Linked DNA regions of Homo sapiens. The protein of the gene in region 1 interacts with the protein of each later gene in a biochemical or structural test. Each region holds a gene or a part of one and is shown in the gene's direction. Other genes may lie near its edges. The genes, in order: SNTG2, RGS12, SLC2A7, CIT, CYTIP, GRM5 and SLC9A3.

Evidence for each region.
Region 2: the proteins of SNTG2 (region 1) and RGS12 interact in a test that uses a peptide from one of them, tested with the Homo sapiens proteins (one large-scale study listed by IntAct).
Region 3: the proteins of SNTG2 (region 1) and SLC2A7 interact in a test that uses a peptide from one of them, tested with the Homo sapiens proteins (one large-scale study listed by IntAct).
Region 4: the proteins of SNTG2 (region 1) and CIT interact in a test that uses a peptide from one of them, tested with the Homo sapiens proteins (one large-scale study listed by IntAct).
Region 5: the proteins of SNTG2 (region 1) and CYTIP interact in a test that uses a peptide from one of them, tested with the Homo sapiens proteins (one large-scale study listed by IntAct).
Region 6: the proteins of SNTG2 (region 1) and GRM5 interact in a test that uses a peptide from one of them, tested with the Homo sapiens proteins (one large-scale study listed by IntAct).
Region 7: the proteins of SNTG2 (region 1) and SLC9A3 interact in a test that uses a peptide from one of them, tested with the Homo sapiens proteins (one large-scale study listed by IntAct).

What each region holds. Positions count from the first base shown.
Region 1 is NC_000002.12:1,233,849-1,237,348, forward strand, and holds part of SNTG2 (gamma-2-syntrophin), read left to right. Parts: intron 1-3,500. UniProt on the Homo sapiens protein: Adapter protein that binds to and probably organizes the subcellular localization of a variety of proteins. May link various receptors to the actin cytoskeleton and the dystrophin glycoprotein complex.
Region 2 is NC_000004.12:3,310,021-3,313,520, forward strand, and holds part of RGS12 (regulator of G-protein signaling 12), read left to right. Parts: intron 1-3,500. UniProt on the Homo sapiens protein: Regulates G protein-coupled receptor signaling cascades. Inhibits signal transduction by increasing the GTPase activity of G protein alpha subunits, thereby driving them into their inactive GDP-bound form.
Region 3 is NC_000001.11:9,023,624-9,027,886, reverse strand, and holds the start of SLC2A7 (solute carrier family 2, facilitated glucose transporter member 7), read left to right. Parts: upstream 1-1,463; 5' UTR 1,464-1,541; coding exon 1,542-1,592; intron 1,593-2,812; coding exon 2,813-2,911; intron 2,912-4,263. UniProt on the Homo sapiens protein: Probable sugar transporter. Even if its physiological substrate is subject to discussion, it is able to transport glucose and fructose. Does not transport galactose, 2-deoxy-d-glucose and xylose.
Region 4 is NC_000012.12:119,716,821-119,720,320, reverse strand, and holds part of CIT (citron Rho-interacting kinase), read left to right. Parts: intron 1-1,459; coding exon 1,460-1,622; intron 1,623-1,911; coding exon 1,912-2,076; intron 2,077-3,500. UniProt on the Homo sapiens protein: Plays a role in cytokinesis. Required for KIF14 localization to the central spindle and midbody. Putative RHO/RAC effector that binds to the GTP-bound forms of RHO and RAC1. It probably binds p21 with a tighter specificity in vivo.
Region 5 is NC_000002.12:157,427,090-157,430,589, reverse strand, and holds part of CYTIP (cytohesin-interacting protein), read left to right. Parts: coding exon 1-31; intron 32-3,169; coding exon 3,170-3,239; intron 3,240-3,500. UniProt on the Homo sapiens protein: By its binding to cytohesin-1 (CYTH1), it modifies activation of ARFs by CYTH1 and its precise function may be to sequester CYTH1 in the cytoplasm.
Region 6 is NC_000011.10:89,041,983-89,045,482, reverse strand, and holds part of GRM5 (metabotropic glutamate receptor 5 isoform a precursor), read left to right. Parts: intron 1-3,500. UniProt on the Homo sapiens protein: G-protein coupled receptor for glutamate. Ligand binding causes a conformation change that triggers signaling via guanine nucleotide-binding proteins (G proteins) and modulates the activity of down-stream effectors.
Region 7 is NC_000005.10:486,450-489,949, reverse strand, and holds part of SLC9A3 (sodium/hydrogen exchanger 3 isoform 1 precursor), read left to right. Parts: intron 1-1,473; coding exon 1,474-1,634; intron 1,635-3,500. UniProt on the Homo sapiens protein: Plasma membrane Na(+)/H(+) antiporter. Exchanges intracellular H(+) ions for extracellular Na(+) in 1:1 stoichiometry, playing a key role in salt and fluid absorption and pH homeostasis.

The sequences.
Region 1 (3,500 bases):
CTTGACTTCCCCATGGATGGCGAGTGTCTGGGAGCTGGTTTGGTTTCTTCTCGGTGGACCCCGGGGTGCCAAGCGCTCTGCCTTCACTTGGTGTGGCTTTGCTTACAGCAGCTTCCTACAATCTCATGTGTGTCCATCAAAGAGCATGTTAGCTCCTGAGCAGCAGATGCTCTGTGAATTTTAGCTCCGATAATGACCTTGGCCACGTGAACACCATCCTAAAAGGCCTGAGCGGCCACCATGAGGCGGGTAGAGAGGCCGGGTTCCAACTGTGAGCCACGGAGGAAACTCGGAGGAAACCGTGAAACTCGGAGGAAACAAAGGCCCAGAAATGCCCTGGAAGAAGCGGCTCCTGATCTTGCATCCAGACGTGCCTGAAAGCAGATTGCGTGACTTACACTAGTTACCCGGCTTCTATAACAATAAACCAAACAGTGAACCAACAGTGAGCCACGCTGTGAACTTTCTTTCCCTGTTTCATTAACATGTTAGTATCTGCCATCAGCATTCATGTCAACAACTTTCACAGTTTCTGTTCATTTGATACTTAATTTTTATTGCTTTCTTTGATAAATTACAGACTAATAATGTTTATATGGTACTTACGGGCTTACAAATAACTTTGTTTCAGTTATCCCATTTGTTCCTCTCAGTATTCCTATTTTGTGGTACGGTTGGCATTTGAAGCCCATCGTACGGACAAGGAAAGCCCAGCTCAGAGGTGAGATGTCCAGCCTGCCTCATGAAGCTATGGCATAAACGTGCCTGGACTGCAGACGCCTTCCTTTTTATTGCAGGACACAGCCGTCTGCCCCTCGTGCGAGTCCGTGAGCCTCTGGGGCTCCACGTGCATTCACTGCCTCAGGGGGCAAAGCTGATGATCTTTCTCAAGACCACAGCATCGATAAAGGGTCCTTCATGGAGCCTGGGTCCACTGTCTCTACTCACATCTTATTCCTGCTACATCAATGATGGTGTAAACCTCCAAAGGCAGAGTTAGGACTCTGGACTCAGATTCCTTCTCACCACTGACTTTACGAGGATGACCACAGTACTGACCCTGCTGAGAGCACCCAGTGTTCAGTCATCCATGCATTTGGTGCATACGTCACCAACCCTGAGAATCAGGAAATGCCAACTCCCTGAGAAGACACTGTCGTTAGTACATGTGAGCTGGAGCCAAGCGGTGACCATGCGTGTCCTTCACACGCCCTCACGCGCAACCAGGGACCCCCAATTCATGAGAGGGGGGACCCCTGCCCCCATGCTGCCCTGAGGTCCCTGCAGGCCCCACCAGGCACCCCCGATTCATGAGAGGGGGCGCCCCTACCCCACTCTGCCCTGAGGTCCCTACAGGCCCCACCAGGCACCCCCGATTCATGAGAGGGGGCGCCCCTACCCCATGCTGCCCTGAGGTCCCTGCAGGCCCCACCAGGCACACCCTATTCATGAGAGGGGGGCCCCTGCCCCACGCTGCCCTGAGGTCCCTGCAGGCCCCACCAGGCACCCCCGATTCATGAGAGGGGGGACCCCTGCCCCACGCTGCCCTGAGGTCCCTGCAGGCCCCACCAGGCACCCCCGATTCATGAGAGGGGGCGCCCCTACCCCATGCTGCCCTGAGGTCCCTGCAGGCCCCACCAGGCACACCCTATTCATGAGAGGGGGGCCCCTGCCCCACGCTGCCCTGAGGTCCCTGCAGGCCCCACCAGGCACCCCCGATTCATGAGAGGGGGGACCCCTGCCCCACGCTGCCCTGAGGTCCCTGCAGGCCCCACGAGGCACCCCCGATTCATGAGAGGAGGCACCCTTACCCCCACGCTGCCCCAGGATCCCTGCAGGCCCCCTAGTCTAGCTGGATCCAGGAAAAGCTGCCCCTGGCCCACACTGGCACCACCCCCTGTTCCTCCCCAGGCCTTTGGAGAAGAACAGGCTCTTCTGAAAGAATAAAAGCGTAGAGCTCTGAGATGGGGAAAATTGGAGGATGGGACACAGGGAACTTTTGAGGATTCTTCTAAAGTCTGTTTTTGGTCTGAGAGTTGGTTGGCCAAGAGTATGGAATACATGACTGTTTATCGAGGTGTTCACTGGTGAGTTGTGTGCGTGTGTGTGTGTCCTGTAGCTCAATGTAAAATATGCCTAAAAATAATAGTCTCTGACCTCTTCATGTGGGGAGCCAGGGAACTTGGCTGTCGTCCGCAATAATCTACTTGACCCAGCTGTTTATTAACCACTAGATTAAGGTCAGCCTTGCTTTGTATATGTCGCACCAGTTAACATGAACAAATGAGAAATGATGGCAATGAACCCATTTTTAGTTAGCACTTACTTTAATAAGAATTAATGGATACTTGGACAAAAGTGTAGATATAAGTCTGTCAATATTTAATAAGCACCTAATTCATGTGGAATATTACACAATCTGCCTAAAATAGTCTCCCAGCATTTTGAAGTGTAAAAATTAATTTATTATAGCAGACATCCAGGACCAAAGGCCCCACGGGAAGCGATGGATCCTGAGGGACAGGTGCTCCCCAGGAGGACCAGGAAAGGTGATCAGAAAGGGCTGTGCGAAGGTGGAGGCAGAGCTGCCTGCCCTCCCCATGCAGGGGACCTGCTTCCTCTGGCTTCTTCCCCTCTCCGGCTCCACACAGTCACCTCCACCTTCACCTCTGTCCTCCTGCCAAGTCAAGAGTACCTTGTTCATCGCCATCAGGCAGAATATCAGCCACAAGTAGATAAACCTCACATTCTGATTCAAGAAACACTAATTAGAATGAGAATGACCCCTAGACAGGGATGTCAGCTTTTTAAAAGAATGACTTTTAAAATAGCAAACTCTGGTCTGATAGATTTGGCTCAAAAATATGCAGAACTGTGTTATACCATCTCTGTTTCCTACCCCTTCTCCTACACACCCCACCTTGCCTAAGAAAGCAGCGATGACACTCACATTTGAAAGATTATTAGAACATAGCTTAGTGATGACTTATTTTTTTAAAAAAATATGTTTGCTTTGTTCTGTATTTTATCTTCAGTTAGCTGCTTGAGACCATGGAGGTATTATGAGTCATATACATTAATATGCATTGTTTTCTTTTTTTCTTTTTTTTTTCAGATAGGGTCTCACTCTGTTGCCCAGGCTGGAGTGCAGTGGTGTGATCTCGGCTCACTGCAACCTCTGCCTCCTGGGTTCAGGAGATTCTCCTGCCGTAGCCTTCCGAGTAGCTGGAGCTACAGGTGTGTGCCACCATGCCCGGCTAATTTTTGTATTTTTCGTAGAGATGGGACTTCACCATGTTGGCCAGGCTGATTTCGAACTCCTGACCTCAAGTGATCCACCTACCTCAGTCTTCCAACGTCCTGTGATTATAGGCGTGAGCCACTGCGCCCGGCCAATATGCACTATTTTCTTAAGAAAAAGTCTATAAAAGTGTACATGACATTTCTCTTTTGCAAATAGGCATATGTAAAGTATGTTTTTAAAAAATATTGCATGACAG
Region 2 (3,500 bases), on another chromosome or scaffold:
GCTGGGACCCGGGAAATGGCAGGTGTCCTCTGAGGGGAACCGTGTGGGGGAGGAGCTGGGACCCGGGAAATGGCAGGTGTCCTCTGAGGAGAGCTGAGCAGGAGAGGAGCTGGGGCCTGGGAATGGCAGGTGTCTGCTGAGGGGAACTGTGTTGAGGAGGAGCTGGGACCCGGGAATGGCAGGTGTCCGCTGAGGGGAACCGTGTGGGGGAGGAGCTGGGACCCGGGAAATGGCAGGTGTCCTCTGAGGGGAACCGTGTCGGGGAGGAGCTGGGACCCGGGAAATGGCAGGTGTCCTCTGAGGGGAACCGGGCGGGAGAGGAGCTGGGGCCTGGAAGGCCAAGGCAAGGGCTGTCTCCAGTCCACGCTGCACCCCAAGAAGGGAAGTGTGGAGAGGTATTGACTGGTGGCTCAGTAAAATGGCCTGGAAGTGGCCTTGGTGATTCCAGAATCTGCCAGCTCACTCCCTTTGGCACCGTGTCCTGCTGTGTCCAGGGCGGGCAGGTCCATGCTGCTCTGGGTCCAGGGAAGGTCTGGGAAGAGTGGCCAGGGACTTGGAGGGCCTCTCAGGTGAATGATGGGAGGTGGCTGGATGCAGGGATGGCCAGTGCGGGTCTGCATGGGGCGGGTATCAGATCGTCTGGTGTGTGTGTCCCTGATGAGGTGGGAGGGGGGTGCCAGGTGGGTGTTCGGCAGCTGTGGGCACTGTGAGGTGGTGGTGGGGGGAGGCTGCTGGGACATGATGACTATGGGAGGGTGTGAGGTGGGCAGGCGCCTGCGGGGGCAGGTCCCAGGTGGAGAAGGTGGCGTGGTGTCTTGCTGTCTCAGGCCCTTCCTCTGTGCATCCACGTAAGTGTGGGTAAGCCAAGAATAGCCTGGGTTCAAATCCACCTTTGCCGTTAATTGGCTGTGTGCTGGTAGACAAGTTACTTAGCTTCTCTGTGCCCCCACTCCCTCATCTGCACGCGAGAATTGTAACAGAGCCTTCCTCAGAGCGATGATGGTGTTTAGGATGACATGCGCTGCACAGCAAGTCCTGGCCGTGGCGGCTGCCATTGCAGCCCGTGGGGTCACCCTGGAGGCCGTGATTGCTGATGTTGTGCTGTTCTTGTGCCTTGCTCTCTTCTTCTCGGTGCCCCCAGACTCTCTCTGCCTTCGGAGGACGGCGTCTCTCTCGCCTCACACTGTGTGCACGGGCAGTGCGGACGGGTGCTGGCTTGGTCTTTCCAGCCCTGCCTCGCTCGGGGCCTGCTGCATCGTAGCTCAGGCCTAGGACCCATCTCTGTACCTGCAGGTCTTGGGTGCTGCCCGGCATGAGTGGAGGAGTTTATCAGAACAGGACCTTTTATAGGAGGTTTTAACTTTAGAAGGGAATAGAAAAGTGTCATGGCAGCAATATTTATTTCTAGATCACCCTGAGTTTTTTTTCTTTGTTTTGTTTTATTGTCCTCTTTACACCATGAGTTTTTAATGATGAATGAGTGAAGGAGTGACAGTGCGGGTTGAGCATCCCTTATCCAGATGCTCCAGAATCGGAAACCCTCTGACACCGATGTGGCACCTCAGGCATAGCTGAGCTAGTGACACCTTTGCTTTCTCATGGGTCAGTGTACACAAACCTTGTTTCATGCACAAAATTATCAAAAGTACCGCACAAAATTACCCTCAGGCTGTGTGTATAAGGTGTATATGAAACATAAATGAATTTCCTGTTCAGACCTGGGTCCTATCCAAACATATCTCATTACGTATATACAGATGTTCCGAATCAGAAAAAATCCACAGCCCTTCTGGTCCCAAAAATCTCTTCTAAGGGACACTCAGCCTGTGTGACGTGGTCGGTGACTCCTGATGGGAGGTGGCAGTGCTGTGCGGCGAGTGGGGACCTTCGTGTCACATCCCATCTGTGCCTCAGGGCTTGGATGAATTACTTCTGGCTGGACCTTGTTCCCTTTTCCACACAGTGAAGAGGCTGGGTTAAATGATCTCCAGTCAAGGTGATTCAGAGTTAGCTGGAAGGTGTGTAGGGGGAAGTTGGAGCTTCCTGGCCTTGCCCCAGACTTACTAAGTCAGAGTCCCTGGGAGGTGCAGGGGCTTGGGAGCAGGCGTTCTTACTGGTAGCCCCGATGGTGTAATGGAAGTTCAGCTGGAATCCAGTACCCCATGGTCTTCTAAATTTCACTGTCTGTTCTGCTAGCTTTACTATTAATTGATACAGTTTTAAAAAAAATTAAACTATAAGCTGAACTTATGTGATTATTTTGGGAGGCCAAGGTGGGAGGATTGCTTGAGGTCAGAAGTTTGAGACTAGTCTGGGCAACATAGTGAGACCTCGTCTACAGAAAAATTAAAACATTAGCCAAGGTTCACTGGGTGTCTTCTCCTTGGCCCCTTTGCCCACGTGGTGAACACTGTGGACCTGTGAGGGTGTGAGGGTTGCGTTCCTGCGTTCTGGACTCTTTACCCACTACTGAGAAGCAGCCGTTTGAAATATGAGTTGGCAAGGAAGATCAGCATGTAGGCTTAGACCAAGACGGTATGTGCAGCCTCCTGAGCTAACTGGGCCTGTGCTTGAGCCCAGTGATGAGCAGCCTCAGCAAGAGGAACCACCACCTGAAAGTCGGGGTCTTACCTGGCCAGGAGAGAGAGGAAGATCACGGTGCTGCTGAGATTCTTGTGCTTGACCAGGAAGCTGATCTCCGGGAGCTGTCTCAAAGACTGGGATGAATGTGGAGATGGTCCTGATGTCCGGGGAATATTCTGCCGAAATCAGAGCAATTTAAATTGCCAGAAGGAGGTGAAGGGCAACCACAGGTTCCAAGGAAGACAAGCTGAAACAATGCAAACTGGTTTTATATTAGATACGTGACTTAAAATATCTCAATACAGTTTTCTCCAAAAAAAAAAAAATAGTTAGCCGAGTATGGGGGTGTGCTTGGTATGGCTTGAGCCCAGGAGTGAGTTTGAGGCTGCACCGAGCAATGACTGTGCCACTGCACTCCAGTCTGGGCAATGGAGTGAGACCCTGTCTCTAAAAAATAAAAACAAAGAAACGTGATTATAGATAATAAGATATTACTTACATGAGTTACAAACCATTTCTTTTTAATAAGCAGAGGCCCATGACAGTAAGAGTCTAGTAGAAAAATTGGGTGGACTGCATAGAAGACATTGTCCATCATTATGTCACACAGTGTGAGGCGGATGGTGCGAATAAACTGGGAAGTCATGTCTTTCATTGAGGCAGCATCTATTCCTGTTTGGAAGAGAAAGCCGAGAGGTGTTCTGTTCCCCGAGGAAGCCATCAAGGCTTCATGACCTGCTGTCCTGGGGCTGTTCACAGTGATAGCTGGCACTTGCCGGGAACAGCAGCACCTTTGTTGTGTGACAGATGCTTTTCTGAGCGTGCTTTAGTGAGACCGTTTCACGCATGTCCTGCTTTCCCTCTCCCCTCACCCGTGACAAAGTGATTCCCCCTTGTATTTGTTTCCTGGGGTTGCT
Region 3 (4,263 bases), on another chromosome or scaffold:
ATTCTGCTTTGATCACTTCTCTTAAAGGTCATGTTAATTAAAAAACATGTTAATGTTTCCATGTTCCCACATTTCATAATTATCCTTTGAAACAGAAGTCTGGCATTCCAATCAATTAGTTACTCCTAATTTATTCAATCATTCTCTACTTTAAAAAAAAAATGCTAGTAGAAATGATTCTGAAATAAGCACCTTTGTCCAATATTTTATTGACTTATTTAACACTATTTAGTGTAATTAGAAATAATAACTGTGTTTTTCTGAAAGTGTTTAATTTGTTCTTTCCCCCAAATGGACAATTAGTCCAAATGCACAAGAGGAGGCATATATGAAGAACCTAGGAACACACAGAAAGGAACAGCAAACACTGGGATCTACTTCCGGCTGGAGGGTGGGAGGAGGGAGAGGAGCAGCAAACAAACACTGGGAAGTGGGCTTAATACCTGGGTGATGAAATAATCTGTACAACAAACCCCCGTGGCACGAGTTTACCTATGTAACAAACCTTCACATATACCCTGAACCTAAAATAAAAGTTAAAAAAAAAAAAAAAGCCAGGTGCGGTGGCTCATGCCTGTAAGCCCAGCACTTTGGGAGGCCAAGGCAGGCGGATCACTAGAGGTCAGGAGTTCTAGACCAGCCTGGCCAACATGGTGAAACCTCATCTCTACTAAAAACACACAAAAAAAGGCTGGGTACGGTGGCTCACGCCTGTAATCCCAGCACTTTGGGAGGCCGAGGCGGGCAGATCATGAAGTCAGGAGATCCAGGCCATCCTGGCTAACACGGTGAAACCCCGTCTCTACTAAAAATACAAAAAAAAAATTAGCCAGGCATGGTGGCAGGCACCTGTGGTCCCAGCTACTCAGGAGGCTGAGACAGGAGAATGGCGTGAACCCGGGAGGCAGAGCTTGCAGTGAGCTGAGATTGCGCCACCGCACTCCAGCCTGGGCGACAAAGCGAGACTCCACCTCAAAAAAAAAAAAAAAAAAAAAAAAAAGCTGGGTGTGGCGGCACGTGCCTATAATCCCGGCTACTTGGGAAGCTAAGGCAGGAGAATAGCTTGAGCCCAGGAAGCCGAGGTTGCAGTGAGCTGAGATTGCGCCACTGCACTCCAGCCTGGGCAACAAAGGAAGACCCTGTCTCAAAAAAAAAAGAGGCATACATGGAAAAATGACACAGAAAAAGCATCCTAGATCCAGGTCACAGCCTCACTGGGTCTCTGAAAGTCCTCATTTCTGCGGACCAATGTCAGGCAATGTTTTTTCTCTCTCCTTGGTGCAACTAGGGAGCTTTCGGCTTGGGGCTTGGTGGGTGCAAAGACGAAATTCGTGCTGTGTATGATTTGTGCACTGGCAACGTGTGTCTTATCAACATTTCCAAGGAGAATTTGCTCCTGGGGAAAGTCAGCAGGGTCCAGAGAGCAAAAGGATCATAAAGCCAGGTAGGCCCAGGGGAGAAACAGCCGGTCTTTAGGTGGCTGGCGCAGAGCAGGTGTCACTTGGGAGGTAGAGCACACCTGTTCTCCCACCTGAACAAGGATGGAGAACAAAGAGGCGGGAACCCCTCCACCCATTCCATCCAGGGAGGGGGTAAGTGCCAAGACTAGGAACCTGTCACTGTCCCTCTCCCACCAGCTGTGCAGACCTGTGGAGGGAGGTGAAGGCCGTGGAATGCTTTTAGCAAGGAGCGGGTAGCGTGCTTCCTTTTTCTTCAGGATAACCAGGCCTGGGAGAGCCATGTGGAGAAGCAGCTATGCTCAAACCTCATGGCTCAGACATGGGCCAGGGTGGCTGAGCGAATGCTGGGAGAGCGGATGGTGCTGGAGATGCCTCTCTCCCTTCCACCCCTGCTCCCCTCCGCTTCCCCTACCCTTAAAGATCGAGGGGAGATGGCCTCTGAAGAATGCCCGAATCCTGCCCTTCTGTCTGGTTGTTCCTGGATGTGCAGAGCTACGGGCTGTGGGCAGCCAGGCAGCTAAGTGTGAGGGTTGGGGTGAGGACATGTGGAACAGGAGTGAGGGGTGGAGGGGGCAGTGGGGAGGGGGCATGCACCAGGGCCTTGGCTCTAGGACATGGTCAGAGACCCTGCCCACCTGCTCCTCAGACTTTGGCCCTCAGGCCAGTTCCCCTCCAAGCTGCCCTGGGTGTTGTGGCAACCATGGAAAGCCTGGCCCTGAGCACAGGCGACTGCCGGGATTTTCCTAAGGGCCTGTTCTAGAGGCAGAGGCAAGCAATGAGTCCCTCTGTCTGGGATGCTCTTCCCCCCGATGCTTACACAGCTGCTCCCTCTCATCCATTCTGGTCCCGGCTCAAAGGGCGCCTGCTCAGAGAGGCCTTCCCTGCCCTGCCCACCCTACTGAACACAGTCTCTCATTCCTCACAGGCTGCTACCCCACCCATCACCCTATTTTATTGTCCTCACAGCATTCTAGCTATTTGGAATTATCATCTTTGTCTTTCTTGGACGGGGTGGGCTCCCCTCACTAGAAAGTGAGCTTCTTAAAGGCAGTGCTTTGCTGGGCCTTTTTCCTAAAGCATCCCCTACTTCACACTTGGCCTCCAGGGCCTAGTACAGGGCCAGGCACGTAGCAGATGCTCAGATACATCCTCAAGGAGGGAATGAATGCGTGCAGAGACCTCAGCCCCCAAAAGCCCCAGCCCTGCGCCACCTCCTCCTCTTTTCCGGGGGCACGGCCTGGGATCCCCCATCCCCCACTTCCAGCCCAGGCTGGAGGGAGGTGGAGGCCCAGCCACTCCACTTCCCGAGGCCCAAGCCCACAGCGTCCCGACCTTGGACTTGTCTCCTACAGCGGCTCCAGCCGACGCTGTTGCTGGCGACACTGAGCGCGGCCTTTGGCTCAGCCTTCCAGTACGGCTACAACCTCTCTGTGGTCAACACGCCGCACAAGGTGGGCACAAGGTGGGCACAAGGTGGGCCGGGCAGCAGCTGACCGGGGTCGTGGGTGGAAGGTAGCCGCCATCTTCCTCCGTGGAGGCTGCCATCTTGCCTGTAGGAGGCACCATCTTGCCTTTGGGAGCAGCCAGCTTGCCCTAGTACCCTGGATGCTCACCCCTGGAGACCAGGGCGTGGCAGGAGGTGTTTCCCCCTGGAGTGTCGTCCTTTCCGGGCACATTGGGATGCTGGGGGACCTGTTCCATTTTCCAGCCCAGTCTTTTTGGGCCTCAGGTCCCACTGCTCTCACCTTGGGTAGGCCCCTTGTTGATTGGAAAGAGAATGGGGTCAAAGATTGAACTCTGTGGCATTTAGGGATTGGGGCAAAGGGGAAAAAAGGAAAAAGAGAAGGGGCCCTTGCAGGTGTGGAAGACCCTGAGGGCAGAATGTCCCCAAAACCTAGTAAAGGATGAGAGTCAAGGAGGGAGGGACAGCCTGTGCTGATGAGCTCAGATGAGGACTGAGAACTGACTACAGGCTTGACCTTGGTATACGTCTATGCTTACGCTTGTATACATATATTAGCATGTCTACAGACACTGTATTACATTTGTTTGTGTATTACGTATATATACATATATTAGTGTACTTACAATTATTACCATGGATGGAACCTCCGAGTCAAGCAATGTACCATCACTTAATCACATTTAATGCTAACACATTCTTTATAAGGTACATCTTGTTTCCATAACTGATGAGGAAATTAAGGTTTCTGGAGGTTCTGTAACTTGCCTGAAGTCACACAATTAGTAAAAATATTTCCTGGGCTGGGAGCGGTGGCTCACGCCTGCAATCCCAGCACTTTGGGAGGCTGAGGTGGGTGGATCACCTGATCACCTGAAATCAGGAGTTCAAGACCAGCCTGGCCAACATGGTGAAACCTCATCTCTACTAAAAATCCAAAAATTAGCCAGGCATGGTGGCGGGTATCTGTAATTCCAGCTACTCGGGAGGCTGAGACAGGAGAATCACTTGAACCCGGGAATCAGAGGTTGCAGTGAGCCAAGATCATGCCACTGCACTCCAGCCTGGGTGACAGAGTGAGACTTCATCTCAAAAAAAAAAAAAAAAAAAAAAAAAAAAAAAAAAAGAAGAAGAATATTTCCTATGGTGCCTCTGGCAGAGTAAGTCGTAAGTCTCTCAAAAGTAAAATTTTTTTTTTCTTTTCTTTTCTCTTCTTTTTTAATAGAGACAGGGTCTCCCTATGTTGGCCAGGTTGCTCTTGAACCCTTGGCCTCAAGCAATCCTCCCGCCTCGGCCTCCCAAAGTGCCAGGATTACAGGTGTGAGCCATTCCCAGCCAAAA
Region 4 (3,500 bases), on another chromosome or scaffold:
ATTATAATAGGTCTTACTGAAAGATATCAGTGATCAAGTCTAACAAACTACTTTTTGTTTATGACCATTCAAATCATAGTATCTTTGTTAAAGAAGTAATCCCTCCCCAGCCCACACACATAGCAGTTGGGGCAGAGGGATGTATGCAGAGAGAAAGATTTATACCAAGTCATGCATACATGACTCTAGAGGGAGTTAGCAAGTCACAAGTATGGGGCTTCAGCAGTTCAGGTCTCTCGTACCACACTCCAGAAAGGACTTTAACAGTGATCTAGTCCAGTCCTTTTGATCGGCTCACAAAGAGACTAGAACTCAGGGAGCTGGGGTGACCTGCCTGAAGTGTCTGACTGGACACTTCTCCCCTCTGCCAAGTACTGAACAACCCTTTTAGATTGCAGGAGACAAATTACAAACTAGGGGCAGGGTTATACATAGTGCACATGAGAAGATTGTTTTTCATAAGCCTGATCTATACATGCTTTCCCAAACCACTAAAGCCTTCATACTAGGTTTGGCCAGGTGTTCTCAGTTCCAGAAAAGTCTTGAAGAAGCTTGCAGTTTCCTTCCAAATGCAGAAGCATACCATAGCAGCAGTGGCAGTGGTTTTGCAGGAGAGGCCTTGATGACTTGGAATACCTAGGAGGAAGGAGTGGAGGGCTGAAGTTGACAGTTGTCTCAATATTTCCGGTGCCATCTTCGCTGTAAGGGCATGAGCACAACATTCAGAGGCCGCCTCCCACTAGACGTTGGCTGCACGGGAAGGATTTTCTTGCATGCTGCGTGACTGTATATGGTTGTTATGCTTATGATATTTAATCTTTTTTATTTTAGCAGTGAACTGTTACCTGGTTATGTCACTTGATTTAGTTAGGGTGTTTCCATTTGTTATTTTTTTTAGTTACCTTTTTTTTAAGTTGCATTATTCTGTTTTCCTTTTTTTTCCATGTATAGTAAATATTTTCATTTGCATTTTTTTTTGAGTAAGCCCCTTGTTTTGACCTCATTTTAGCATTCCTTTTAAAATTTTGCTTCCTTTTACAAAACACTCATCTCTGTGTCTTGTAACTGAGCATCATGAGACATATTCCAAGGCAAGAGTGACCTCTGAACCATCTCTCCTGACTCCATACTCCATACTCTCCTGATTCCATTTTTTGAATGGGAAAGACTCAGGACATGACTCTCCTGTCTTGGCAATGCTAGAGGAAGAGGTGGTGGCCATTCAAGCATCTTTAATCCTCTTGGTGAAAACTTCCGCACCCCTATTTTTTTCAGCCGGCTGGAACGGGCTGTGGCTCAGCCTACCCTTCCCCCCCTTCACATGCCATTTTTACTAAATACACTTACAGTGAGTATGCTCCTGGCTTTTGTGGTTTGCTCCTCCCGAGTCAGATTTCCTTTAGCTAGTTTCAAGTGCCAGTTTCCAGGAGTTAGGAGATATCTCTGTTTCCATTGCTAGGGTTTATTTAGTCGACGGAAAGAGGACCCTGCTTTACCCACACAGGTTCCTCTGCAGTACAATGAGCTGAAGCTGGCCCTGGAGAAGGAGAAAGCTCGCTGTGCAGAGCTAGAGGAAGCCCTTCAGAAGACCCGCATCGAGCTCCGGTCCGCCCGGGAGGAAGGTAGGGGCTCACTCTCTCCAAAATGCTCAAGGATGTGGAAAAGGCAGAGGATTGATCTCAGTGAGATCAGCCAAGACTAACTAGCTCAGTGTCTTCGTTTATGGCCCATACGCTTTCAGACCAGACATCCCATGTCTGAAAAACGTATGGCCCCTGTGCATTGCCAAGTTGATGTGACGCATATTCTTTTGGTCTTGGGTCCTTGAAAGATAGCCCAGGGACATTCGGCTTAGTTTGGTCCTCTAGGCGACCCAGCTAACCAAAAGGCATTGTCCTGGTCTCTCTGCAGCTGCCCACCGCAAAGCAACGGACCACCCACACCCATCCACGCCAGCCACCGCGAGGCAGCAGATCGCCATGTCCGCCATCGTGCGGTCGCCAGAGCACCAGCCCAGTGCCATGAGCCTGCTGGCCCCGCCATCCAGCCGCAGAAAGGAGTCTTCAACTCCAGAGGGTACGTTGGAGTTGTATGGAAATTTCTTTTAGTCGACTAAGACATGTGGGCATATGGTAAAAATTACAAGTAATACTAGGGGTTAAAGATTAAAAAGTCAGTCTTGGCCAGGCACGGTGGCTCACACCTGTAACCCCAGCACTTTGGGAGGCCGAGGTGGGCGGATCACCTGAAGTTGGGAGCTCAAGACCAGCCTGACCAACATGGAGAAACCCCGTCTCTACTAAAAATGCAAAATTAGCTGGGCATGGTAGTGTATGCCTGTAATCCTAGCTACTCGGGAGGCTGAGGCAGGAGAATTGCTTGAATCCGGGAGGCGGAGGTTGCGGTAGCCGAGATTGCGCCATTGCACTCCAGCCTGGGCAACAAGAGGGAAACTCCATCTCAAAAAAAAAAAAAAAAAAAAGAAAGAAGTCAGTCTCCTGGCTCCCCATCCTCAGTGTTGGTTCATATATGTGACCACATGTCTATACCATTCATGTATCTTACATTGTGTGATTATATTTAAAGAATATGAGAAAATAGGCTGGGCATGGTGGCTCACGCCAGTAATCCCAGCACTTTGGGATGCTGAGGCAGGCGGATCACCTGAGGTCAGGAGTTTGAGACCAGCCTGGCCAACATGGTGAAACCTCGTTTCTACTAAAAATACAAAAATTAGCTGGGTGTGGTAGCATTCTCCTGAAGTCCCAGCTACTTGGGAGGCTAAGGCAGTAGAATCATTTGAACCCAGGAGGTGGAGGTTGCAGTGAGCCGAGATCACCCCACTGCACTCCAGCCTGGGTGATAAAGTGAGATTCCATCTCAAAAAAAAAAAAAAAAAAAGAAAAGAAAAGAAAAAAGAATATGAAAAAATAAGCACATCTCTCTCTCAGGCCTTTTTTCTTTTATAAATATTATAGTGGTGGCTCACGCCTGTAATCCCAGCACTTTGGGAGGCTGAGGTGGGCGGATCACCTGAGGTTGGGAGTTCGAGACTAGCCTGACCAACATGGAGAAACCCTGTCTCTACTAAAAATACAAAATTAGCCGGGTGTGGTGGTGCATGCCTGTAATCCCAGTTACCTGGGAGGCTGAGGCAGGAGAACTGTTTGAACCTGGGAGGCAGAGGTTGCAGTGAGCCAAGATAAAGCCATTGCATTCCAGTCTGGGCAACAAGACTGAAACTCTGTCTCAAAAACAAAAACAAGAAAACGTAAGCTTATCTTTCAGGCCTTTTTTCTCTTATAAATATCATAGCACACTACAGTATACACTGCAAGACACCTTCGTTTCATTAAAGTGCTATCTTAGAGGTTTCACATTAGTACATAAGGACCTACCCCATTCTTTCAGAGAACCACACAGTATTCCGTGGTGTGAGCATGCAATTCACCTGTTAAGCCAGGCTCCTGTTGATGGCCATTTAGGTTGTTTCCAATCCC
Region 5 (3,500 bases), about 160 Mb from region 1:
ACCTGATCAGATCGTCCGGAAACCTGCTAACGTAACTATCTGTCTAGTTCCCGTGGGGCTTCAAAATGTTATGTTTTCTCATAAAGCCTGATGAGTGAATAAATAGGCCTTTTGTTCAGCATTACAAGACGGAGTGAGGCAGTGCACCGGAGCTTTAGAGTGGGGTACAAACATTATCAGTTCCTTTTGTTTCTCAAGATTCCTCACACTTGAACATACTGTCAACATCTGAAGTCAGAGGACATCAATAGCCCAAACGTCTGTGTGGGAAGGATGGCCTTTACAAATGTATTTTTTTAATGTCAAATTCAATTAAACTGGCACACATTCTCTTTAAACTGGGAAGAACTGATCCAATTTTCATGGTTGATATAATCCTGTAGCTAAAACAAATCAAAGGTCAGAAGGGCTGAGTTTTTCCTCTTATGTGACAAGCCACCTGTTTTTCTCTTCTAGTGTTCCATTTGGAAGGAAGAATAGTCTGTTCAACCCTCCCCACCCTGAAACACACATACTCACACCACATGTTCCAAATGTTCCAAACTTCTTTTTTTTTTTTTTTTTTTTGAGACGGAGTCTCGCTCTGTCGCCCTGGATGGAGTGCAGTGGCGCGATCTTGGCTCACTGCAAGCTCTGCCTCCCAGGTTCACGCCATTCTCCTGCCTCAGCCTCCCTAGTAGCTGGGACTACAGGCGCCCACCACCATGCCCGGCTAATTTTTTGTATTTTTAGTAGAGACGGGGTTTCATCGTGTTAGCCAGGATGGTCTCAATCTCCTGACCTCATGATCCACCCGCCTCCGCCTCCCAAAGTGCTGGGATTACAGGCATGAGCCACCGCCCCTGGCCCCAAACTTCTTAATAGAACACTGGCTTTCCCAATTAGAGGTTTGACTGATTTTTCTACCATAACAATACTAGCACCTAATAAAATCTTATTAGGATAGTTAAATGATGAAATTCGCTCATTCATTAAAATCATATTTATTGAGCAAATACTATGTTTCCAGCTCTGTGATAGGCTCAGGAGAGACGAAGATAAAGACTCTCTTAGTACGTTAATAGTTATGGAAGGAAATGGCTCAGAAAAGCCTGAAATTTAAGTAATGTGTATATTTCAGTTATTGATAACTACTATGAGAAAAGTGCAAAACAGCAATGGCCTGTCATGCTAGGTAAGAAGGCTGCTAGTTTGGCTTAGATGTGTAAAGTGGTCTTTTCTAGGGAGGCGATATTTGAGTTGAGATCTAAATGAAGAGAAGGATGGTCAAATGAACTCCTCGTAAGAGCACTTCAGGCAAAGAGAGAGGTCTCTGAGTGCTCACAATGGGCTTGGCATGTACAAGGGAAAGAGAAAAAGACAGTATAATTGGTATTTGATGGATTAGAGAGGGTATAATAAGAAATGAAGCCAGAGAGTTGGCCTGGGGGCAGACCATGGATCTCTTTGGACATGCCAACAAGTTTGGGTTTTATTCTGATTGAGGTGGGTCATATATTGTGTCATTTATTCTTCACAGCCACCCATGAGGTTAATTTTATTCCTATTTATAGATGAAGTGCCTGAAGCTTAGAGGGGGCTTAGTTAAGGTCACATAACTGGTAAGTGATAGGGCTGGGGTTTGACCACCTGCTCTGGATGCCAGGATCTGTCCTTTTCAGCTACAGCTGCTCCTTGGAAGCTGCCAGTAGAAAATCTGCTGGATGCTTTTCAGTGATTCTGGTGTAAAACTTCAAAGGATGCTTTGGGTGTTTGTGAGAGCAGATTTGAAAGATGGTGGTGGTAACAAATTGGGTCCAACTCTATAGGTCCTGTGAGTTCAGGGTAAAGGATGAGGTGCTTTTGCTCTAGAGAACCCTGGATCCAAAGGAGAGGAACCGTGCAGAGTCTGAGGGGAACTGCTGGTAGTTAGAGTCAGAAAGCATGTTCCACATGGGTGAAGAGGGTAGACCACAGGTAAATAGGGGTTGTAGATGGAGGTAACTGTTGGAAATCCGGGAAAATGGGAGACAGTCTGTACAAATACTGAGGAAAATGGCCAAATCAATGGTTGCAGTTTTGCCCATACACATCTATTGCTTCAGCAGGTCAAACTGACATTCAATCCCAATGAAACAGATTCATATGGATTCCCACTATTTCTCAGAGAGTCAAGATCACCTTAAGGAGAAAACAGACAGTATATAGCTTGCTACCACCTGATTATTCCTGGCATGATGCTATTAGAAGTAGAAGACTGATCTCCACATTTAATGCTTTTACCATGCCTTGAAAAATTCCTTGCATCTTTATAGAGAGGTACAGCTTAATTACAAGAAGGAACTTGAACCAACACTTTAAAAATTGGTGTGTGATTCACAAATGAAATTTTTAAATCATATTCAGATTGATGGTTTAGTAGTCAAAATAAAAGCCTTTAACTTGAACACACAGAACAAATCAAATCACTCAGAATAGAACAAGTATTTTATTTTTAGAAATGTGTGTGGTGTGGGAAGAACAGAACACTGGTAAGTTGATAATTCTAGGATTAGAGTTTGTAAACTGAATGTTTTGAGATAAAGAATCATATGAAGGTTATTATGTCATAGTAGTTGTACTTCTGTTTCTTCTAGTACCAAAATTATAAGGAGATTTACAGAGGTAAAGGCTCCTAGAATCCTATGGAGGAAAGGATTTCTCCCTCTTTCAAGAAGTAGCATGTTAATTCCATGGTTGTGAAAGCCCCTAGAGCCTATTATTTCTGTTGTTGTGCCCCTTGTGTTCAGCATGGTTTCTAGAATCTGGTACATAGTAGATGCCCAATAAATATTTACCAAATGAGTGAGGTCATTCAGCCCATCCCCACAAGAACAGATTCTAGTAGAGAGCAGCCATCATTGTCACATAGTGACTTCTATAAAATAAGCTATAGTTTACAAATTAACTAGGATCCTTTCTTTTAGCCACCTTCTCAAGGGGAGTTTTCCCCCATTTTCTTTCTCTGTTATCAGAAGATTTGGCTTTGGTCCAGCTACTCGAAGTGCCATGAGAACTGTAACATTTGTATTTCGTTTTTAGTATAGTATGTGCTCAAAGTGTAGTACTCTGTAGTATGGTACTTATTTAAACGAATCACTCATGTTACTCACTCCCCACCTTCCTCTTCTTTTTTTTTTCCTTAAAACAGGATAGAGACTCTTAATGGAACAATGATTCTGAAAAGAACGGAGCTTGAAGCAAAGCTGCAGGTTTTAAAGGTAATTTAATTTAATGCAGTGAGGCACATTTTTCATCCTTGAATGTGTGAGTGGTAAAATAAAGATCTATTTGAGGAACTGAGATAGCCCTTGAAAAAGAAATGTCGTGGTGAATCTAAACTGCTGAATTATCAAGAGCCGCACAATTACCTTTGGAGGAATATCAAATTCTGCAAACCAGTGTAAATCACTTTCTTCCTTCCTCCTTCTGTGTGTCTATGAGGCTCAGAAAGGCAACAGGAAGGCATGCCACTTGAAGAA
Region 6 (3,500 bases), on another chromosome or scaffold:
GAATAAAACAAGGGGCATTTCTGTATATATAACATTTTATTTTTTCTAAAAGGGGTTTTTATGCAAACAATTTGATTGGATCTTCATAGAATTGTTCTCAGAGAAGAGCAAAACTACTAAGAGTTGCTGCTTCTGAGAAGAAATCTAAGTTAAGAAATGAGGTGGAATATTTTATGCATAATTTTTATATACATACACTTTAAGCTCTATATTAAATACATAATTTACCTACTGAAATATAACAATTACATGAAAACATTCTATTTGTGGGAAAACAAAAGACAATAGAAATTGCAATGCCAAATTCAGGCAAAATATTTAGGTTGTACCACCAGGATTCAGGAGAGAACAAACCTTGGAATTGGACATTCAAAGGTTGGAAGAAATACTCGTTTGCTTACTGTTTATGTGGTTGTGTCAAGAAATATTTATCTTGCTTTGATCCCAAGCAAGTATGTGAATAACGAGGTTATGTAGTGTTAAGTCTTATGATTTATCAGTACAAGAATGGCATGGTAGGAATTTTCACAAGGTGAAACTCACCTCCAGGATCAGAAAAGTGAGAGTCAAACAGGATACAGCTTTGTTGGGTACTGTGGGAACTCTCTAAGGTCATGCTTTTTTTTTTTTTTCCTCCCCACTTGGTTTTTCAGAAAGTCTTGGTGGGATCTTCCATGAAATGATAGTGTCAGTTATCATCCAGTCTCTTCCTCTCACTGGGTTGAGGTGATTTTCTCTAGCATTAGGAGAATTAATCCCAGTACTTGATAATTTATCTTCATATTCTTATAATTATTCTCCTTTGTTCCATCAATATTCTCTTTCTTGAAGAGTATGGAAATTTCCAAATGCTTTCACATGAACCATTAAGGTCTGTGAAAAGATGTGGTCCTATTTTCAAAAAACATTTTTTCTCCTAATTGCCTATGTGTTTTATACTTAAACCTAACCGTACTGTGTCACGGGTACCACAAGATGTTCCTTCAAGAAAGTGTATGTCATCACAGAATTCCAGAGGAGTGTACAAGGAAAACTGGGTTTCAGCTTCGATGTTAATCTCTTACACTTGCTATTTCCTGTGATTTATGGCTTTAGTAGGCTGTGTGACTGGGTATTTACTGTGGCTTGTTCTATTACACAGAAATTATGCCTGGAACTTCTAGGCAAAGAGATTTATAGTATAAAACAGAAGAAGAAGAAAAAAGAAAGCATTTTTTAAAGAGCAGATCAAACTAGCTCTTCAACTGGGCAGAGGAAAGGAATATGCAATGACTCAGAAGAAAAGTAAAATCACTTCTTTTAATGGAGTAAGAACTCTCTCTGCACTAAGGAAATGTAAAGGGTCCTTTGCCTTAGTACTTTTGCAAACCTTGATACATGTGCCCACGATGACACAGGATTGATGGTGCTTGCCCATTTAGCAGTGTGGCAGATTGCATTGATGACGTCTACTAATGGTGCTTCTGTATTCACATCATTTGCTTTTGACTTGATAATTCCCTTTTACTTTCATGTAGCACTGGCCTTCTGACACTTTGACCAATAGCACTTGGTTGACGTGAGAACTTTCTTCCTAGTTTGTGTTGGAACCCTATTGTCACCCTGTGAAGTATGAGAGCACCCAGGTTTTCCAAATGAGTGCATCTTAGACCAGTTGACCTCAAACATGTGAGAGCGTGCAATGCAGATCAACAAAATTGCCTTTCCAACCCACAGCTAATTGCAATCACATAATTGAGCCCAGCTGAAACCCTCAACATTACCCAGCTGACTATTATTGTTAGCAATAAAAAATGCCTTCAGGATGGAGTCCAGTATAAACATACTCATCCCTCTCACTTTAGTCTCTAACTTCCCTTCTCCCAAATCAGATACTATTGCTTAAACTTCAAAAGCAAAAAAAAAAAAATAACATGCATTAATATTCTTGAAATTCGAATATGAAATAAAACAGAATATATGCTGTGGGCAAGAAAGAATATTTAAAATGCTTTGCCTATACTTCTGTGGCTAGAGATGTGATAGTTCCCTTAAAGTCTGAATGTTTCAAATAGTTAAGCGCTTGAATATATTTCATTATTATATTCTTTACCTTGATCTAGTTCAACTTCATTAAGAAAAGTAATTATTGTATTGTGTTTTATACAAAAAAAAATTTTATATTGTACTTCCTGGGTGATTGACAAGATTTCACACTTCACTAGTTTTCCTGACTTTAGTTGAAAATCTACAGCATATCCACAGGGCCTATTAGAGTGCCCATCATATAATATGTGCTCAAAGACTATTTGCTGAATAGAGGAATTTGTGTTAGTGAAGTACGTAGCTCACCATTTATGACTATATAGTATGTGGATAAATAGCAGGCACTTGTAAGTTTTTAGTTTTGCTTCTTTATAAAAATGAGGTGTCAAAATGACTCCCTTGATTAATTGTAAAATCCTGTTCACGCTACACTTCATTTTCTGTTTTCACTGGTTCTTGAATTTATTATTTCTGTCTAATGACAGGAATGTTAATTTGTTACAGCAAAAAACAAATCAGTGATGTTCTGGGGAGAAAAATGTACCAATAAATTGTACTGGTAGCATACATTATTGAAGATATGGTCTTCAGGTTAACCTAGAGATTGCAATTTCAGGTTATAATATGACTTCCCATCAGTTATTTACTTAAAAATGTGATAACAATCCAGCTTTGATTGAAGGAACTTCAGTATGATTCATAGTCTATATGCTTGTTTGACTTCTAAAAACTGGGAGTACACTTTTCCCATCTCAGCATTTCTACTAATTATCATTACACAAGACAATTTACCTTGGAAAAATAATAAATGGTACTGTGGAAGCTACTGAATAATTTTTAAAAGGACTTTATTTTGTTTCTCCAGGAATTGAACAGTGCTGAGAGTTAAAACAAATTTTGGGATGATCATGGTAATAATAAAGACACATAAATTACTATTCATTCCATAGAATGTTAACACTGTGTCTCAGGCCAGCATTTAATCTTCTGTATTTTACGGTTAAGGAAACTAAAATAGAAAGGTCACATAACTCTACCTTGCTTGTCAGATAATTAGTTGCAGAGTTGTGTCTTGGAACTCAAGATTTCTGTCCAGAACTTGGTTTCCAAAACATTGCTGGAGATTATTAGTCAGGTTCCTTTTTGCCATTTTTCTACCTCTCCATTGCATTGTTTTATTCACTCTCCCTTTATCTCAGTGGCACCAATATTTCTAAACAATTGGCTGAAAGTGTTAATAACTATCTGAAATAGTAGAAGGGACCACAAATGAAATAATTCATCTAAAAATTAGCCTTCACAGGAGAATTGCTTGAACCTGGGAGGTGGAGGTTGCAGTGAGCCAAGATCATGCCATTGCACTCCAGCCTGGGTGACAAAAGCAAAACTGTCTCAAAAAATAAAAATAAAAATTAGCCTTGAGAAATAGCATGATCAATTTGCTCTTGATCTGTAAATTAGATGAAGTGCTCCTT
Region 7 (3,500 bases), on another chromosome or scaffold:
GCGAGAGCTTCAGGCATCAGAGGCCCTTGCACAGGCAAAGCACGTGGTGGAGAAAGGCCTGGAACATGCGGTCTGGTGGCATGAGCCCTCCTGGCACGGCCGTGGGCAACTGTCCAGACGGGAAGGCTGCCGGCCGGGGAGTCTGAACGCGGCCGACCCCAGGACATCCATGGGGGCCATCACTGCCCTGGGGGCGGCCGTGCCAGGAGGCCGCGTTTAAAGATGACCTTGAAGGGGATTCGTGTCCTGAGGCCTGAGTTTGGAAGAGGAGAAGGCTTGTGTGGTTCCCGTTCCAACATGGAACTTTAACTCCCTGAACGCTGGTTCTTCTGGCATCTGTCACTTCCTCGGGGTGTTGTGACACTGGCCAGAGGCTGCTGGGGCTTAGGAGCTCACAGCAAACTCGGGGTTTAGTCACCGCAGAGATGACCCTGATCTGTCCCCTCCCAGGCGCCAGCACAGAAACCCCTGGCCAGGCTGCTCTCTGCTGTCTCCTGGGGCCCGTCCGGCTCCAGGGACAAACCCCTCCTCAGCCCGAGCCTCAGCCCAGAGGGGTGGTGGGCTCCGCTCCAGCCCAGCAGAGAGGCAGCAGCTGTGCGGGGGGACTCGTCGGGGGCCTCCCCCTCCCTGGGTGGTCTCTCCCACACCCTCACGGCCCTGGCGTCTCCTGGTCCCTGGACCCTCACGGCCGGGAAGGCAGCAAGGAGGCCCAGTGTCCTCTGAGCCCTGCGGCCGTGAGAGAGGGCAGACTCTCGGGGCCACGTGGCCACACTCAGTTCCCTGAGGGTCCCCTGGAGCCTGGCACCCCCACGTGGCCTCCTCGAGGCCTGAACCCTGGGTTGAATGGCAAAGACTTGTGAAGGATAAGGCTGCATTTCAGTAAAACCTCCCCAGCGAGGGGCACCAGAGCCCACAGGCAGATGCGGGGAGGGAAGCCGGCCGGGAGCTAGGGACCACATGGACCCACGTCTTCCGGGCCCCCTTGCTCCCACCGCAGCCCTGCTCATCCCCACAATCTGCCCCCACACCCCCAACGGCCCTCCCACCTGCCCCTCCCTGGCCGCGCCCCTGGGTGCTGTGTGTCCCGGCTCCGGGCCCGTCCTGGGTCAGCCCCACTTGCTTCTCCTGGGCTGGGACGCCACTCCAGGCGATGGGCCCCCATCCCTCCCCAGCATGCGGTGCCCCTGCACCCACCTGCCTCCGTTCACCCAAAGATGAAGGAGAGGGCCAGGGCCAGGGTCAGTCTGTCTGTCTGTCTTGCTCAGATGGGGTGGCCCCCTCGGAAGACAGCAGCCTTCCCTGGAGGGGGCTGGGGGTCTGTGGGAGGGACGCAGGAAGCTGACCCAGCTCCCCACGCCACCGGCGCCAGCCAGACGGGCTCCGAACCCCGACCCGTAGGCGAGCGCCTCCCCAGGGCCCTCCTCCTCGGGTGGCAGGCCCTGCAGCTGCCCCGCGGCCCGGCTTGTCTTCCAGGCGACCTGCAGATTGGGCTGCTGGACTTCCTCCTGTTTGGCAGCCTCATGGCGGCTGTGGACCCGGTGGCCGTCCTGGCCGTGTTTGAGGAGGTCCATGTCAACGAGGTCCTGTTCATCATCGTCTTCGGGGAGTCGCTGCTGAACGACGCAGTCACCGTGGTGAGCAACGGAGCCACCGCTCCAGAGCGGGCGAGCCGTGGGAGGCCTGGGCCCCGTCTCACCCCCCATCGGTCAGTCAGCAAAGGAGGGCGTGAAACCCTGTCCTCAAACTCCCCTCCCGGGGGCGTCCCGTCCCTCCACCTCCTTCCTCCCAGCTCAGAACGACTGGCAGCTTTCGCGAGGCTTCTTTGTATCTTCCACAGTTCCCAGGCCCTGCCCGCCCACTCCATAGCTTCAGGGTTAATGATGGCGCTGTTGAAATCCCGCCCTCCTGGTCCCCAGAGCGTCTGTGACTTTGGACCCACAGTTACTGCCACCCATTCCTGAGTTCCTAAAAAATACATGAGTGGCCGGGTGCGGTGGCTCACGCCTGTAATCCCAGCACTTTGGGAGGCCGAGGCAGGTGGATCACCTGAGGTCAGCAGTTCGAGACCAGCCTGGCCAACATGGTGAAACCCCGTCTCTACTAAAAATACAAAAATTAGCCAGGGGTGGTGGCACGCGCCTGTAATCCCAGCTACTGGGGAGGCTGAGACAGGAGAATCACCTGAAACCAGGAGGCAGAGGTTGCAATGAGCCGAGATCGTGCCATCGCACTCCAGCCTGGGTGACAGAGTGAGACTCCATCTCAAATAAAATAAATACGTGAATAGCAAACAACAAAATCCCATAGGAACCACGTAATCTGCCAGGGCCGCCATGACAAAGTACCGCAGGTGCAGTGCCTTGAACGACGGTGGGTGTCAGTGTGGTGGGTGTCAGTGTGGTGGGTGTCAGTGCGGTGGGTGTCAGTGCGGTCTGGATCACGGTGTCAGTGTGGTGGGTGTCAGTGCGGTGGGTGTCAGTGTGGTGGGTGTCAGTGCGGTCTGGATCACGGTGTCAGTGTGGTGGGTGTCAGTGCGGTGGGTGTCAGTGTGGTGGGTGTCAGTGCGGTCTGGATCACGGTGTCAGTGTGGTGGGTGTCAGTGCGGTGGGTGTCAGTGTGGTGGGTGTCAGTGCGGTCTGGATCACGGTGTCAGTGTGGTGGGTGTCAGTGCGGTGGGTGTCAGTGTGGTGGGTGTCAGTGCGGTCTGGATCACGGTGTCAGTGTGGTGGGTGTCAGTGCGGTGGGTGTCAGTGTGGTGGGTGTCAGTGCGGTCTGGATCACGGTGTCAGTGTGGTGGGTGTCAGTGCGGTGGGTGTCAGTGTGGTGGGTGTCAGTGCGGTCTGGATCACGGTGTCAGTGTGGTGGGTGTCAGTGCGGTGGGTGTCAGTGTGGTGGGTGTCAGTGCGGTGGGTGTCAGTGTGGTGGGTGTCAGTGCGGTCTGGATCACGGTGTCAGTGCGGTGGGTGTCAGTGCGGTCTGGATCACGGTGTCAGTGTGGTGGGTGTCAGTGCGGTGGGTGTCAGTGTGGTGGGTGTCAGTGCGGTCTGGATCACGGTGTCAGTGCGGTGGGTGTCAGTGCGGTCTGGATCACGGTGTCAGTGTGGTGGGCTCCTGCGGGACCCCGGTCCTGGACTTGCAGACGGTGCCTTCCCGTGTCCTCACGTGGCCGTCCCTGCGTGAATGTGCCCGAGTCGCCTCCTCTCACAGGGACACGGGTCCTATTGGATCAGGGTCCACCCCGGTGACCTGACTGTGCCATACTCCCCTTTTTCACGCTCACATGCCCAGGTCCTGGGGACTTTAACATGGGAATTTCGGGGGCACAATTTGGCCCATGACAGAGGTGAAGGGAGGGAAACTGAACTGGTGCTAACGGCAGAGCCCGGACGGTGTGTGGGTGTCCCTGGAGGAGATGGTGTTCCGGGAGGCGGGGACGGTGCCTCCACAGAGGCCCAAAGGCCACATCAGCGCTCAGTAAGGCCAGGAGAAGATTCAGGAAC